Regions from separate parts of the Homo sapiens genome. Here region 2 is linked to region 1. The links come from fine-mapping of genetic effects on gene expression. Tissue or cell type: whole blood. Region 1 holds a variant in brackets; the other region holds the start of a gene. All regions are shown on one strand. Distances are between the middles of the regions.

Region 1 (8,000 bases):
GCACTTTGGCAGGCCAAGACAGGAGGATAACTTCAGCTCAGGAGTTTGAGACCAGACTGGGTGACATAGTGAGACCCCAACTCTCCTTTAAACATACAAAGTAAATAAAAATAAATTTAAAAAAAGAGGGCTGAGCGCGGTGGCTCACGCCTGTAATCCCAGCACTTTGGGAGGCCAAGGCGGGGGGCGGGGGGGGATCACCTGAGGTCGGGAGTTCGAGACCAGCCTGACAGACATGGAGAAACCCTCTCTACTAAAAGTACAAAATTAGCTGGGCATGGTGGCGCATGCCTGTGATCCCAGCTACTCGGCAGGCTGAGACAGGAGAATCGCTTGAACCCGGGAGGCGGGAGGCGGGAGGCGGGAGGCGGAGGTTGTGGTGAGCCAAGATGGCGCCATTGCATTCCAGCCTGGGCAACAAGAGCAAGACTCCGTCTCAAAAACAAACAAACAAAAAAAAAGAAAGAAGGACACAGGAAGATGGGCCACTTGGGAGAAAGAGGCTGAGGAAGGGGCAGTTAGCTACCCAGACCTAAAGGTGTGGCTGGGGGAGTGTCCTCCCTCCTTAGATGATGGGGCGTGGGGGCACCTGGATGCGGTCGGAGTAGTTATCTAGCAGGAGGACCCCTGAGCTGGTCACTTTCTTGGTCTCCACCATGGTCTTCAGGTCAGCCAGGAGGGTCATGTGCTTGGACATGTCCGTGGCCAGCACCTGCGGGCAAGGGGGCGTCACTGGGGCCGCTGACACCCGCCCCCCAGACTGACCCGGGCCTCTGAAGTTTTCACCAGGTAGAAGCCGCCCGCTCTGTCCAGGTTGAGGGTTCCTCTGGGACTCAGACCCACTCCTCCCCAAAGCCCTCGACTCCTAGGCTTCCTTTCCCGCTCCGTCCCGCCCCAGCCCCGCCCACCATGTCGATGACCATCTTGCGTAGGCTCTGCCGCTGGCGCTTGCTGAGGTTCTGGAAGATGTCGCAGTTGTCCTCCTGCAGCAGCTTGAAGCCCACGGCCAGGTGGTGATTCTCGAGCACCGACTCATCGTTGTACATGAGCGCCAGCTCCGAATCTGCAGCCCAGCCCGGAGGTCAGGGGAGGGCCCACGTGTGCAGCTCCAACCGCAGGAGGGCCAGCTCCGCCCCCAACTAGCTAACCCCTCCCCAGCCCGGCCAGCCTCGCCTCCAGCCCAGTCAGCTCTACCCCAGCCCGGCCATCCCCTTTCCAGCCCAGCCAGCCCCGCCCCCAGCCCCGCCTCCTGCCCGTTCATCCCCTTTCCAGCCCAGCCAGCCCCGCCTCCTGCCCGGCCATCCCCTTTCCAGCCCAGCCAGCCCCGCCCCCAGCCCCGCCTCCTGCCCGGCCATCCCCTTTCCAGGCCAGCCAGCCCCGCCCCCAGGCCAGCCAGCCCCTCCTCCAGCCTAGTTAGTTCCGCCCCCAGCCTGGCCAACACCGCCTCCAACTCAGCAAACCCCGCCCCTGGCGAGGGCCACTCACTGGTGTTGATGAGGAACTGGTTGGAGACCCCAGGGTGATCCACATCGTGGATGGCAGCCGCGAAGAGGGCGGCGAGAATCTCCAGGTCCGTGAACACTGCCTGGGAGCAGAGACACGGATGTTAGAATAACAGAGTTGAAGCCATGCATGGTGGTGAGCACCTGTTTGTCTCACCTACTTAGGAGGCTGAGATGGGAGGATCACTTGAGCCTAGGACTTCAAGGCCAGAAGTTCGAGGCCATCCTGGGCAACATAGCAAGGCCCTGTCTCAAATTTAATTTTCTTTCTTTTTTTTTTTTTTTTTTGAGACAGAGTTCTGCTCTTGTTGCCCAGGTTGGAATGCAGTGGCACGATCTTGGCTCACTGCAACTTCCCCATCCTGGGTTCAAGCAACTCTCCTGGTTCAGCCTCTCTAGTAGCTGGGATTACAGGCTCCCACCACCACGCCCGGCTAATTTTTAAAATATTTTTGGTAGAGACAGGGTTTCGCCATGTTGGCCATTTCTGACCTCAGGTGATTCACCTGCCTCAGCCTCCCAAAGTACTGGGATTACAAGTGTGAGCCACCGTGCCTAGCCCCCCGCAATTTTTATTTTATTTTTTTTGAGATGAAGTCTCACTTTGTTGCCCAGGCTGGAGTGCAGTGGCGCAATCCTGGCTCACTGCAACCTCCACCTACTGGGTTCCAGCGATTCTCCTGCCTCAGCCTCTGGAGTAGCTGGGATTACAGGCGTGCCCCACCACGCCCGGCTAATTTTTGTATTTTTAGTAAAGACAGTGTTTCACCACGTTGGTCAGGCTGGTCTCAAACTCCCGACCTCAGGTGATCCACCCATCTTGGCCTTCCAAAGTGCTGGGATTACAGGTGTGAGCCACCGCACCTGGACTAAAACTTTTTTTTTTTTAAGAAATAAGATTTTTGACCGGGCACAGTGGCTCACGCCTCTACTCCCAGCACTTTGGGAGGCCAAGGCGGGCTGATCACGAGGTTGGGAGTTTGAGACCAGCCTGTCCAACTTGGCGAAACGCCATCTCTACTAAAAATATTATAAAAACTTAGCCAGGCGTGGTGGTGGGCACCTGTAGTCCCAGCTACTCAGGAGGCTGAGGCAGGAGAATCACTTGAACCCGGGAGGCAGAGGTTGCAGTGAGCTGAGATCGTGCCACTGCACTCTAGCCTGGGTGGCAGAGCAAGACTCCGTCTCAAAAAGAAAAAAAAAAGAGAGAGAAATGGCGTCAAAGAGAGATGGAGGTCAGAGACACAGGGTCAGAGAGACACACAGGAGGCTGAAGAGGCAGTCACAAAGAGAGATGGGGACGGTCACTCACAGGGCAGTCACTCACATCTAGTGCAGGCGTGGCCAGCAGTACGTGGGTGGACTGCAGCACGTCAGCTGCGTGCAGGCTGTTATGGTAGGCCACGTCAGCGTGGTAGTGATCCTCCAGCGTCAGCATGTATGTCACCATCGTGTCCACAGGGATGCGGAATTTCTTCAGCAGGTCCCGCTCCTGAGAGCAGGCAGGGGCAGGGTGGTGACCTCCACCGGCCTCCAGCGCCCCGCTATGAGCCCCTCACCCGGGCCCACTCCCAGCTGTCCCCATCACCTGGAATATCATGTACATGATGCAGGTGAGTGAGCGGCCTCCAGCGTAATCCGACACGCAAAAGATGTTCAGGCCCCACTTGTTCAGGTTCTCCAGTTCCTGGTGGAGACGGAGGCCAGAGGTCAGAAGCCTGTAAGGCTCAGGGCCCTGGAGAACATTTCCTAGGAGTTTGAAGCCTTGGTCTGAAGGAAGCACCATTATTGCTCACCCAGTGGGTGACAGGTTCAACAGCACAGAATGTACTGCCCTCGTCCTACTGGGCTGCAAAATAGCGAAAGCAATCACAGCCACTGTCTTTTGAGTACTTATGATCTGCCAAGTATTGCTCTAAGCACTTGATCTCGTTTGGCAGGTGAAGGCACCAAGGCTCAGAGAGGCGATGTGACTTCTCCAAGATCATGCAGCTCATAAGTGGCAAAGCTAGGATAGGAACCCAGCACGACTGGCCCCAGCACAGCTCAGCCTCTTAGCTAAGCTGTTCACGAGCCCCAGGGGAGAAAGGAAGAAGGGCTTATTTTCCATGTCTCTCCAAAATTCAGAAAAGGGCCAGCACATAGTAGCTGCTTAATAAACACCAGTTGGCCAGGTGCAGTGGCTCACGCCTGCAATCCCAGCACTTTGTGAGGCTAAGGCGGGTGGATCACTTGAGGCCAGGAGTTCGAGACCAGCCTGGTCAACATGGTGAAACCCCATTTCTACTAAAAATACAAAAATTAGCCAGGTGTGCTGGCACAGGCCTTTAGTCCCGGCTAGTCAGGAGGGTGAGGCAGGAGTATTGCTTGAACCCAGGAGGTGGAGGTTGCCTTGAGCCGAGATCACACTACTGCACTCCAACCTGGGCAACAGAGCGAGTCTCCATCTCAAAATAAATAAATAAATAAAAATAAATAACTAAAGGCCAGGTGACTGAATGGAAGATTCACTGGAGGAGGTGGCTCAAAGAGGGTTACAATAAGCCTCAGCTGAGTGAGCCACCAAAGATGGATCACTTCCACTGCCGCTGTCCCCTGGAAGAGCTAGGAGTGAAACACCGGTCTGGACTGTTGGGGACACTATGGGGGCACAGTCTGGATTAGCGTCACTGCTGTGTACACCAATCCCTCTGCAGCTGGGAGTGTTGCCTGCTAAGGCTCACAGCTGCCTGCATTTCCAGAAGACTAGTCCCAACAGGAGCTACATGCAAGAGGTGATACGTCCAGCCCTGGGGACGGCCCCCAAGCAATGAATGATACAGAGGTACAAAGAGCCAGCATGCTTGCCTCAAGATGGGCTCAAACCCTCATCTCAAGCT[C/G]TGCTTCTGGGAAACCTGGCCTAAGACATAACCCAATGCCCAGTCCTTCTCAGGGTCCCAGGAGACCACCCCCTCCAGCCCTGCCCCTACTGAGCCCCCACCCACTTGGGCCAGGAGCTCTTCTTGATCGGTCTTCACCCCAAATCGGGGAATGTTAGAGTTGTTCAGGCTGTTACTATGCATCAACTTTTTCAACCCTGTGATTTGGGACATGGGCTGTAAGTGTGGTACAGGGGGCGGGGGCGGCTGGGAGGGTCTTGGTCGCGGCGCTTGCTGTTTTTCTCGTTCCTTCATCGTGGGTGATGGGATCTCCACTTCATTCTGTTTGTCTGCAGAAGATGGGGAGCAGGAACAAGTGTGAACAACCCTTCCACCCCTGGAGGCTCCCTTATTCTTCAGCCCACTACCACGTACGGGGAAGGCTCACCCGAAACGGCAGAACCCTTTCAGCTGTGATGCCGCTGGCTACTCAGAGTCAGGAAACCAGAGGGGATGTGGGAAATCTTCCAGGAGGTGGTGGGCTGGAGTGGGGGCCCAGGGCTCTGGGATGGCCCCGGTCTGATCATCAGATATGGATGGAGAGTGGTGTGGGAAGTCAGAAAGCGAGGTGGGGATGCCAGGGAGAGCCGCTGCCTACCCCGAACACCCAGGGAACCTTTCTGGGTGGGGAAGATCCCAGCATGGGGGCCAAGAGTGCTGGTGTGGGGGGTGGCATCACTGGGAAGAGAGAGGGAAGGGTGGTCTCTGGCTCCATGTCCCTGCCCCCCCCCCCCCCCGCCCACCTTGGCACCAGCCTGCCTGGGGGACAGCCCCAGGAACCCTTTTCCTGAGCTTTCAGGGGCTTCCAGAGCTGAGCCAAGGTCACCCATTGTGACCTGGAGCTAGCTAGTCAATGAAAAGGCCTAATACGGGTCATTTACATGTTATGCTCCCATTGGGTGGATCCTCAGAACTCAGAGACACACCCTCACTGGTGGGAGTACTGGAAACACCGAACACTTTTTTTCTTGAGACAGAGTCTCGCTCTGTCGCCCAGGCTGGAGTGCAGTGGCACGATCTCTGGCTCACTGTAGCCTCCACCTCCCGGGTTCAAGCGATTTTCCTACCTCAGCCTCCCGAGTAGCTGAGATTACAGGCACCCGCCACCGCGCCCGGCTAATTTTTACATTTTTAGTAGAGATGGAGTTTCATCATGTTGGCCAGGCTGGTCTTGAACTCCTGACCTCAAGTGATCCGCCTGCCTCGGCCTCCCAAAGTGCTGGGATTACAGGCGTGAGCCACCGCACCCAGCCCCAACACTTTTCTTGAGCTTGTCTGGGCGGTTCCCGAATTTGGGGGCCTTTGGAGTGTAGTGATAAACTGCGAGGATTAAATTATCCTGAGTTTGGGGGAATATCTCTAGCTTGAGGGTTTTGAGGTACCCATGAACTTAAGGGTTCCAGTGAAATCGGGGTATTCTGGTGCATTTGGGGTTCCATTGAATTAGGAATCTTACAGGTGTTAGTTTTTTTGAGACAAGCTGGAGTGCAGTGGCGCAATCATGTCTCACTGCAGCCTCGAACTCCTGGGCTCAAGTGATCCTCCTGCCTCAGCCTCCCAGGTAGCTGGGACCACAGGCACACGCCACCATGCCCGACTAGTTTTTTATTCTATTTATTTATTTATTTATTTATTTTTTTTTTGAGATGGAGTCTCACTCTGTCACCCAGGCTGGAGTGCAGTGACGCTATCTCAGCTCACTGCAACCTCCATCTCCCAGGTTGAAGCAATTCTCCTGCCTCAGCCTCCTGAGTAGCTGAGATTACAGGTGTGTGCCAACACGCGCAGCTAATTTTTGTATTTTTAGTAGAGATGGCGTTTCACCATGTTGGTCAGGCTGGTCTTGAACTCCTGACCTCATGATCTGCCCACCTCGGCCTTCCAAAATGCTGGGATTACAGGCGTGAGCCACTGCGCCCGGCCTAGTTTTTAATTTTTTTTGTAGAGACAGATTCTCACTATGTTGCCCAGGCTGGTCTTGAACTCCTGGGCTCAAGCGATCCTCTTTTCTCAGCCTCCCAAAGTCCTGGGATTATAGGCAAGAGCTGCCTCTTCCTGCCTCTTACAGGTTCTTAAGCTTGATAATCTTCTAGAGATTAGGGTTCTAACATTTTGGGAGTCTACTGAATTGGGGGGGGGTCATACCAAGTTTGGAGATCCTATTGAATTTGGGGGTTTTTCAGTTTGGAGGTTGCTAAAGTTGGGGGGCCTTTTGTGGACTCGGAAGCACAGAACTTCCCTTAAGTTTGAGAACTCTACTGAGTTTGGGCATCTCTCTTGAGTTTGGGTGTGTCTACTGAGTTTGGAAGGGAGTCAATCCAAGTTTGGAAATTCTATTGAATTTGGGGTTCTACTCAGTTCAGGAGGCTTTTCAGCTTGGAGGCTTTTTTTTTTTGTTTATTTTTTGAGACAGAGTCTCACTCTGTTGCCCAGGCTGGAGTGCAGCAGTGGCGTGATCTCAGCTCACTGCAACCTCTGCCTCCCGGGTTCAAGTGAGTGCTAAAACAAAGAGGTGTTTGTTTGTTTGTTTGTTTTGAGACGGAGTCTCACTCTATTGCCCAGGCTGGAACGCAGTGGTGTGATCTTGGCTCACTGCAACCTCTGTCTCCTGAGTTCAAGAGATTCTCTTGCCTCAGCCTCCCAAGTAGCTGAGATTACAAGCACACACCACCATGCCCGGCTAATATTTTTTTTTTTTTTTTTGAGACAAGAGTTTCACTCTTGTTGCCTAGGCTGGAGTGCAATGGAGCGATCTCGGCTCACTGCAACCTCCACCCCCTGGGTTCAAGCGATTCTCCTGCCTGAGCCTCCTGAGTTGCTGGGATTACAGGCACCCACCACCATGCCTGGCTAATTTTTTGTATTTTTAGTAGAGATGGGGTTTCACCATGTTGGCCAGGCAGGTCTCAAACTGCTGATGTCAAGTGATCCGCCTGCCTCAGCCTCCCAAAGTGTTGGGATTACAGGCGTGAGCCACCGCGCCCGGCGCTTGGAGGCTTTTTAAAGTTTAGAAGGGTTTTAAGCTCACAGATGATTTCAGATGTTGGGCTCTATAGAAGCTGGGGGTCCCACAGAGTTTGGAGGCATCAGGAACATGAGGGTTCCTGGATAGGGTGACTGTGACCTTTGGGGAGTTGAGAGTCAGAGTCCCTGGGAAGATGTGAGCAACAGGACCCACGGTCAGGGGCAGCCCCCTCTCTACCCCAAATGTCCCCCCTCCAATCCCACGTGCTTCCCCTCACTCACCCAGGAATGTTGTGGAAATGTACTCTGAGACCTGGTTTCCGGACCTGCTCATTTCTGACAGGTGTGTGAGCTCACGGTTCAACATCCTTTTGAACTAAGGTAAAGGAGTCAACAAGGAAGAAATGATGGGGGAAGCACAGTGGTGAGGAGGGTGTCAGTCCTTCCCAAGAACGCCTGAAGACCCCATGAGTCCCTCCTATTTTTCTGCTCAGCCAACAGAGCCCCTATAAGACTGCTGGGGGGTTGGGGTCAGCCTTTCCTGTCCTCCCAGCTCTGGATGGAGGTCCCCAGGTTTGGGGAGTCATGGTCAGCATAACCCTCCCTGCCTGAGGAA
Region 2 (8,000 bases), 38 kb after region 1:
GTTTTAGGGCCCAGGGAGGGGGGACGCAGGGTCCGTATGTTGGCCCCGTCCCCAGTTCAGACAGCTCCCCACCCCCACCACCAAAGTCCTCCTCTTCCTCCCTCTCCATCTGCCTCTTGACAGATCGTGGCTGTGCCGTGACTCAGCCGTCTCATACATCTTCAGGTCTGGAGGGGAGGTTTGGATGACATCTCCGGTTGGGGGTGGGCAGTGCCCTCTCTCTGGGGATTCCTTTGACCCAAATCGGGGGAGCTCGCTGGACTCCTTTTGCGGTAGCTGGATGAACTCCAGTGTGGGGAGCACTGAATCCTGTATGTGCCCTGGTAAAAACCCCCTTTTTGAAGAAATGCCTGTTCTAAGCATTGAGGTTGCCATCAGACACCTTCCTCCTTTTCCCTGGGAATGGGGGAGGACCCTGGCACTGATGCCAGCTACAGCCCACCCATCAGTCCCAGCTTTGGACCTCAGCACAGACACTGAAGGGTGCACAGGCCCACAGTGAAACAGAAACCCGAGTCTACGTGGGGATGTGGTTAAGGTTCCTGTTTTTTTCTACTCACCCTGGAGAAATGGGATCCACCCAGGTCCCCCCTCCTTAGTCCAGGTCCCTGAATGGAGATCTACTGATTATGTTAAGTCCTTTACACACATCTCCAAGCTCACAGAACCCTCAAAGTGACCCCCACATGGCAGTGCCAACAAAAGCCCCACTCTACAGACTGGAAAATTAAGGCTCAGAGAGGGCAAGACACTTATACAAAGATGCACAGGAATTGGGCGGACCTGCGTTGCAATTCCAGCTCCCCCATCTCCTGGTTGTGTGAGTTTGGGTGAGAAAGAGAAAAGGTTTAGCTGGGTGCAGTGGCTCATGCCTGTAATCCCAGCACTTTGGGAGGCTAAGGGGTGGGCAGATCACCTGAGGTCAGGAGTTCGAGACCAGCCTGGCCAACATGGTGAAACCCCATCTCTACTAAAAATTCAAAAATTAGTCAGGTGTGGTGGTGGGCGCCTGTAATCCCAGCTACTCCGGAGGCTGAGGCAGGAGAATCACTTGAATCCGGAAGGCAGAGGTTGCAGTGAGCTGAGATCACGCCACTGCACTCCAGCCTGGGTGACAGAGGAGACTCTGTCAAAAAAAAAAAAAAAAAAAAAAGAGAAAGGGTTTTGTCTCTGGGCTCCAGTTTCTCCATATGCCAGCAGGAATACCCTGCTGGAATACCCAGGGCACTGGGGATGAGGATGCATATGGAAAAGTCCCTGGCATGGAGCCGGAGGGTGAGCCATTGCGAGATGGATACCCACCAAAATAATGATGATTATTACCACTCAGCCACTGTCCCCTAAGACTCAGTGCCCCAGAGACCAGGCTAGGAGGAGTCCCTGGAGCCTTGCAAAGAAATGGGGCCTGGAACCTACTTCACTTCACCCACCCCTTGGTGTCTTAGGACAGTGACCTGTGCCAGTTTGGCCCCCTGCCCCAGTTTTAGCATTTTCTGTTGATTCCAACTTTCTCTTCCTTCAGCCTCTCTCCAGTTCCCTTTGGGAAATGTCAGCCCATGTATGCTGGGCCCGTGACACTTGCTTCCTGGTGGGTAGAAGGGTGCAGGGGGACTGGGGCTGGGGGGTGATCAGAACAGAGGTGGGGGTGGCCTGGAGGGCTGCAATGACTGCTGAAGACCCCCAAAGAGACTTAGGAAGAGTAGGGCTACATCTTAGAGAGGCCTCACTCAGGAGCTCCAGGGATAAGGAGCCCAAATCTGACCGTCTTGGTGATATCCCCAGCAGTGGGGCATCCAGGTAGAGCACACGGGCAAAGCTGTCAGTTGCACACATCGCTGGAGCACAAGCAATCAGACCCTGGAGCACCATCAGAGGAGGAACAATAACTAAGAACACCAGGTGGTTAGAGGACACCAGTTCTTAGGATACACCAGGCAGAGGGAACACAGACCACATGTCAGAGCACCGACGCTCAGACGTGAGCACCTGGTGAAGACTAACACACAGCCACTGTGTTTCAATCACAGTGTCCAAGGAGCACAGACTGTTCCACGAACTCAATCACATTGTTCCCCAAGTGTAAACACCCCAGTGCCACAATCACTGCATGCCAGAAATGACACTGTCACAATCACATTGTCCCTAGACCACCAACACCATTGCACAATCACTGTCCTAGGAGCAGAAACAGTCACTCTATCCCAATCACTGCATCCCATGAGGCCACAGTCACCCTGTGACAGTCACAGCATTCTTGGAGCACACACAGTCACTGTCGCAAACCCTGTCCCAGAAACACACAGTCACACTACCCTGGAAATACACAGTCACACTGTCACAATTACACTGTCCCTGGAGGACACAGAGTCATCGTGTCACCATCACAAGACCCCAGAAGCTCACACAGAGCACACAACTGAGGTAGCCACAGCTGGTCATACCCGGACAGCTGGAGCAAACGGAGGTCAATCGGAGAATACCCTCAGAGGAGACCAAGCTCAACACACATGCACCCTCACTATGCTGTCACCTCTGCAGTCAGGGACTCCTTCCCTCTGTGCTGGGACTGCGCCCCCCCTCCACTGTTTCCTGCCTCTGAACAGCTACTTAACGCTAACACTCTTGCCCTGAGAGGGGAACTCCAATCTAACGCAAGGCTCCCAAAACAGTGCTCCCCCAAGAGGCACCCTCTGGATTTCTGACCCCAGCTGCTGCAGGAGGAGTCCACTAACATCCCCGCAATAGAGTCCTCCATCCCCTAGAAGGACCCTGAGAGCACCCCACCCTGAAGTAAAGATCCTGGTCCTAGCAGGCACCCCCTTATGGAGTGCTCCAAGAGTACCCCAAACACTGCGAATCTAGCCCTCAGTATAGTGCCCCCAGGAAGGTCCCTCCAAGTGGTTCCCAGCTTAGCAGCTGTTCTGCACTGTCACCAAGAATACAGACCCCTAAGTGTGCAGCCCCCTTCCCCAACCCAGACCTCGTTAACACCACGCGCAGCGTGGCGCCCCCTAAATGGACCCCAGGATGGGCTTCAGCAGGAAGCCTCCCGTAGAGCGCACAACCAGGGGCCAGGTCCCAGACGCCCCCGCAGCCGAATTCCCTCCGCCCCCGCCAGCCAAACCGACCCCACCCGCATCCTAGCGCCCCCTGCGGCCGGCAGCTCGAGTTGCCTCCTCCCTGCGCGCCCATCCGTTCCGCGCGCATCCGCCGCGGGGAGTCTTACCGCCTGCTGCTGCCTCCGCCCGCGCCGCCGCTGCCGGTGCCAGTGCCATGGAAGGACGAGGGCCAGGACATGCGGGTCGTGCGCAGGCCGGGCCGGTCGCTGGTGTCCATGGCATCGGCGCGCTCTATGGGCCGGTGCGGCTGCCGCTCCCGCTCGGCGCGCTCCGCGCTGTCGGAGTAGCCGCGCTGCTGGATACGGATGGGGGTCCGAGGCTGCCGCCACAGGTGCTGCGGGGGAGGCTTCAGGGTGGCCTGGCCCTCCCGGGGCCCGGGCAGTGACAGAGACAGGCTCCTTTCCGAGGGGACGGTCGGGGGTTCCATGGCGCCGGCCCCCACTTGCGCCCCAGGGGGCCCTGGCCCTTCCAACCTACACCCCGCTCAGCTGCGCGCAAGCCAGCGAGCCCAGGGCCCCGCGGGTGCGCCCGGCCGCGGTAGGGCCATGGCGCCCCGGGGACAGACCCGGGGGCGCTGCGGGCCAATCGCCCCCGGGCCGGGCTCTGCAGCTTCCTTTCGGCGCCTGGAGCTCTGCTCAGTGCCCGGCGGCGCTCTCCGCGCTCCGCGCTCCGCGTTCCGCGGCCCGCTCGGCGCCAGCCCCGGCTCCTCCGCCCCGTCCCGCCCCTCCCCGCCCCCCGCCCGCCGCGGCTGTCAGCGCCGCCCCCCTCCTCCTCCGTCCGGGCCAGCGGGGGGCAGCTACCTAAGGAGGGGGGCCCTTCCCGCCCACGCAGATCCCCGCTCCGGGCTGGGAGGGGGCGCTGGAACTCGTCTGTCTTCAAAGCACCCTGCTTGGCCGCGGCGCGCACAGGCACGAAGGAGTTAAACGGTTAATCCGATCTGGAAGCAGACACCGGACTGGTTGCCAGAGTGTCAGTCAGTCGGTCCATCATGGCGAGGGCGGAGTCCGGTGTTGGCGTGTCCTCGCCGCTACCCCTGGCGGGGGGCAGTTTTTGAGGAGTGGTCCTAGTGCCACCGGCGCGGTACCTGCAGCGGGCGGCGGCAGAGTGTGTGGGATCTCCTGTCTGTGCGTCGGAGGATAGTGATGGTGCGGGCCCGGGGCGGGATGTGCGCGCACGTGGCCTCTTCCGAGGGTTGTCTGTGTTTTCAGTGTCGGCTGGAAGTGTGTGTGCGCACGTGGTTGGCTGCTGTTGTCTGCCCGTTTCTCTGGATTTGGCTGTGTGTATAACTGTGTGTGTCTGTGGGTGAAGGATGTGTGCGCACATGTGCTACCTATTTGGAGGATGTGCATCCCTACGTGGTCTTTTTTCAGGTGGCCTGGGGACTGTGAATGTGTTCTCAAGCGCTTGGATGCGTTTGTGGTCGGTGTGTGCTTGCGGAGTTGTGCACGCGATTCGGCCTCTGTCGTCTGACTGTAGTGTCGGAGGACGTCTATGTATGTTAGTGTGTGCGTGTGCGTGAGTGTATGTGTGTGGTCGGCCTGGGGCCTCTGGGGTGTTTCTGGGGTGTGTCCCATTGGTTCCCTTGTGGCTCCAGGAAGACACCCTGTGGCGGATACCGCAGCTGCCGGCCCACCGCTCTATACATCGCTGCCTCTTCTAAAGCGCTTCTGCCAGAGGTAAACTGAGGAAGGTCCCAGGTAGCCGCGGAGCGCACCCCCGTGCCCTTTTCAGGCGAGTAAACAGGCGAGCCTCCTCCCTGCGGCCCCCGCCAGCAGAGCCCCCCTTCCGGCACCTAAATCGGGAGTCGCCGTGACTCACGCTCCCGCCTCCCCCAGCGCCGCGCCGAGCGAGCAAGCAGAGAGCGAGCGGGATCCGAGTGCGCCCCCATCCCCCTCAACCCCCCCAAGGATGGCTGCTGGGCGGGGGGAGTGCACGCGCCCGCGTGTCCCACCGCCCCCCCCCCCCACGCCGATAAGAGCTCGAACGCGAAACTGCTCTGCTGCGGGACCCGGGGACCAGACCCCTGCCCCCGTGCGCCCCCTGTCACGGGCTCCCCAGGGCACGCGATGCCGTTTGCCACCGCCCTCCCCCCGCGCCCTTCTCCTTATTTGAAAAAAAAAAAAAAAAAAAAAAAAGACTGCCGGTCTTCAACCCCCACAGCCACTTTTCTCCCCGCCAGAGGGGGCTCCCGGCGTGGGCGAACGCCGAGCAAAAACCGGCCCCCCCATCAGCAGCCGCCGGGTATTCCAAGGGCCAAAACTGTGTTCCCCACTTCTCTCAGGAACACCCCCCCCATTACACACTCAAAACGGCTTCTAGGGAATTTGCAGGGGCTGTGAGTTCTCCCCAGATCATATTTGAGAGTCCTGGGCTGGGCCAAATTCTTGGCGGGGTATGCTGTAACGTTGGTTAGAGATCTGGAAGCGGGTGGGAGTGCGTAATGTGAGGTGGGTGGGGGTGTCAGGACACAGCTGGGGTTGCAGAAGAAGGAGGAAACGAGGAGCGGTGGCCTGAGCTGGGGGATAAACTGATCTGGACCTGAGGCTAGTGGGATGGGCGTGGAGAGGTATAATTAAGCAGCTCCAGGGGCGAGAGACAGTCACTTGCTCTCCCTATCTGGAAATGAACCATTGGACCATGACGGAAACAGAGACCCTGGAACCCTCCAATTGAGTAGATGGGGGTGGGGGTGGATTGGAACTGCCGAAAGCGGTGACCAGAGGAGGGCATGGGGGCAGGGGCCGGCCAGAAGCCAGGACCAGCTCAGCTGTCTGACTTTCCAGCTCATTCTTGAGCCAAGAGGGGGGTTGAGTACTCTGGGAAACTGGTTGGGTACCTGGAAGGTCCCCAGATGAGAATCAGCAGGAGGTGCTGTGTGAACCCAGAGCTCGCAGATATTTCTCACATCTCCCCAGGAGAAAGAAAAATACTAGTCCAGACCCCTTCCAAGACTCCACCATCCCCTTCAAGGCGGAGAAGAAACCTGATCCTCCCAGGCGGGGACATGAAAGCCGGTGCACAGCCGCCTGATCAACCTGCCCCAGCTCTGTGAATATGGGAGCATCTTGGGGGCTGGAGACATGACACCCCTTTCCTCAGTCCTGCCCCTTGCTGACTCAGGCAGCTGGAAAATGAAATAAGGGGTTCCTAGAGCCTGCGAAGGGTGCCTTGGGGTAGGGGTGTCACAGCCCGCCACAGGACAAGTTGCAGCTAGTTTTGCAAACGGCAGGGAGCATGGAGATCGGGAAGGGCTGGTGGCTGGACCTAGCCCAGTTGGCACTGTGCCTCCCCAACCCACCTCCCACTCTGCTCCCTCTCCTACCTACCTGTCGTTCTCGGCCCTGGTGATGGAAATCCGCGGTGGGATCAGCAGCGGCAGGGTGGTGGGCCGTGGCGGCAGAGGGACCCCAGGGTCCGAGGGCTCAGGCTGGGCCCAGCCCAGGCCAGGACCGGACGAGAGGCGGCGGCGAGGGCGACGCAGGTCGGCCCCCAGCATGTTGGCACGGTCGGATTCGGGGGTCTCCCTCGACCTCTGGGGAGGGACAAAGTGGAATAGGGGCGTGGCCTGGCTGGGAAGCTCTGAGCCCCTCTCCCCAAGAACACCCCTACCTAGCTGTCTAAGGGAGTAGTTAATGGCGGTATAGGCTCCCCTTCACGTGTGAGCCACTCGCTGACCCCTCACACAGAGGGTGCCCTGCCATCCCTTAGGTCTGAGAGTGCCCCTTCTCAGCCATAATTTTTGTGGGGTCCCCTCTCGATGCCCCAGCCTTGGGGTCTGTCACATCTAGACATTCTGTCTCAAGTGTGAGACCTCTCTAACACATCACCTTTTTAGGGTCTCTTCCCAACCTCCACGTCTAAGAGGGCCCCTCTTGGTCTTAATGTCAATGCCCCCCTCCCATCCCTCACATCTGAGACTCTCAAGACCTCACCACCCCTAGCGCCCCCTCCCACCTCCTCGCCAAAATCCTCTCCTCATTTGAGAAGCCTTTGCCTGCTGTCCCTGGGCCGGCTGAGAGCCTCTTAGGGCAGCAGGAGAAAAAATGGAATCAAGGGGGTAAACTGAGGCACGAGGGGACCAAACTCCTCACAGCTTGGAGGTAGTGAAGCCACGTTCAGGAAATAGCCGTGGTCACTAGAGGGCGCTAGTCTCCCCCAAGGGGCGAAGCCCCGCCCCTAGCCCAAGCCCCTCCTCTCGCACCTCGTCCCCGGTCCCTGCCACGGACAGGGCACTGCGACTCCTCTTCATCTCGCCAACCTAGCGCGCCGTTGGGACTGCGGTGGCCATGTCGGCAGGGCCAGGGCCTCCTACAAGACCAAGCCAAACGCATCTGCCATCAGTGCCCCAGGGCTCCCCCTGCCGGTCGGGCCTAGAACCCGCCCCCGCCACTTGCCTATTGCCTCTCCTGGGGCGTGACGTCAGCGGACTGACGCACCACCAATGTGGTGACGTCGCCCCCGTTGCCAGGGCGACAGCTGACGCACGGCTGGGCTCCTGACGGCGTCAATGCCGGGGTTGGCCACTGGGGGGCCGAGAGCCTCCGGGCCCGGGTCGCCCCAGCCCCCACCCTTCCTCCCGCGGGGGCTTCCCCGGCTCGGGGATCCCGCAGAAAAAACTGGGAGCTCCCAGAGCTGGCCGCGTGCGGCGCGTGGTCCGAGCCGGGGGCCGGAGGAAGCGTCTCCTCCGAGCTGTTGGGCTTTTAAGCCTTAAACCCGAAATAGCTCCGATGTGCGGGGGCCGGGCGCAGAGAGACGGCGGCTTGGGCACAGATGGGGGACGCACAGGCAGAGGCGCGTGGAGACAGACAGGGACGTGTGGAAATAGAAACAGACAGACAGGGACACAGACGCCGTTCCCGAAGACGGGTGCGCTCTGCAGCC

What was found. PIP is the estimated chance that this variant, and not a neighbour inherited with it, causes the effect.
Region 2: PDE4A starts here. The variant in region 1 is fine-mapped to the expression of PDE4A in whole blood (INTERVAL, PIP above 0.99). The same link has a PIP of 0.9 or more in T cells, blood mononuclear cells, lung and monocytes.

The regions. Positions count from the first base shown.
Region 1 is chr19:10,454,589-10,462,588 of GRCh38, reverse strand. It overlaps PDE4A (phosphodiesterase 4A), which reads right to left. Exons shown (of 15, transcript NM_001111307.2): 7 at 7,667-7,760; 8 at 4,487-4,710; 9 at 3,091-3,189; 10 at 2,830-2,994; 11 at 1,486-1,585; 12 at 909-1,063; 13 at 590-712. Among named protein-coding and RNA genes, the nearest start is that of PDE4A, 38 kb to the right of the region's middle. RefSeq lists enhancers at 889-1,028, 533-1,257 and a silencer at 1,219-1,398. The variant C/G (reference allele first, on the strand shown) is at 4,382.
Region 2 is chr19:10,416,311-10,424,310 of GRCh38, reverse strand. PDE4A (phosphodiesterase 4A) reads right to left here and starts at 3,773. Exons shown (of 15, transcript NM_001111307.2): 1 at 3,227-3,773. The coding sequence starts at 3,546. RefSeq lists enhancers at 2,731-2,920, 4,101-4,980, 5,974-6,524, 6,525-7,076, 7,379-7,498 and silencers at 3,131-3,180, 3,411-3,880, 7,599-7,868.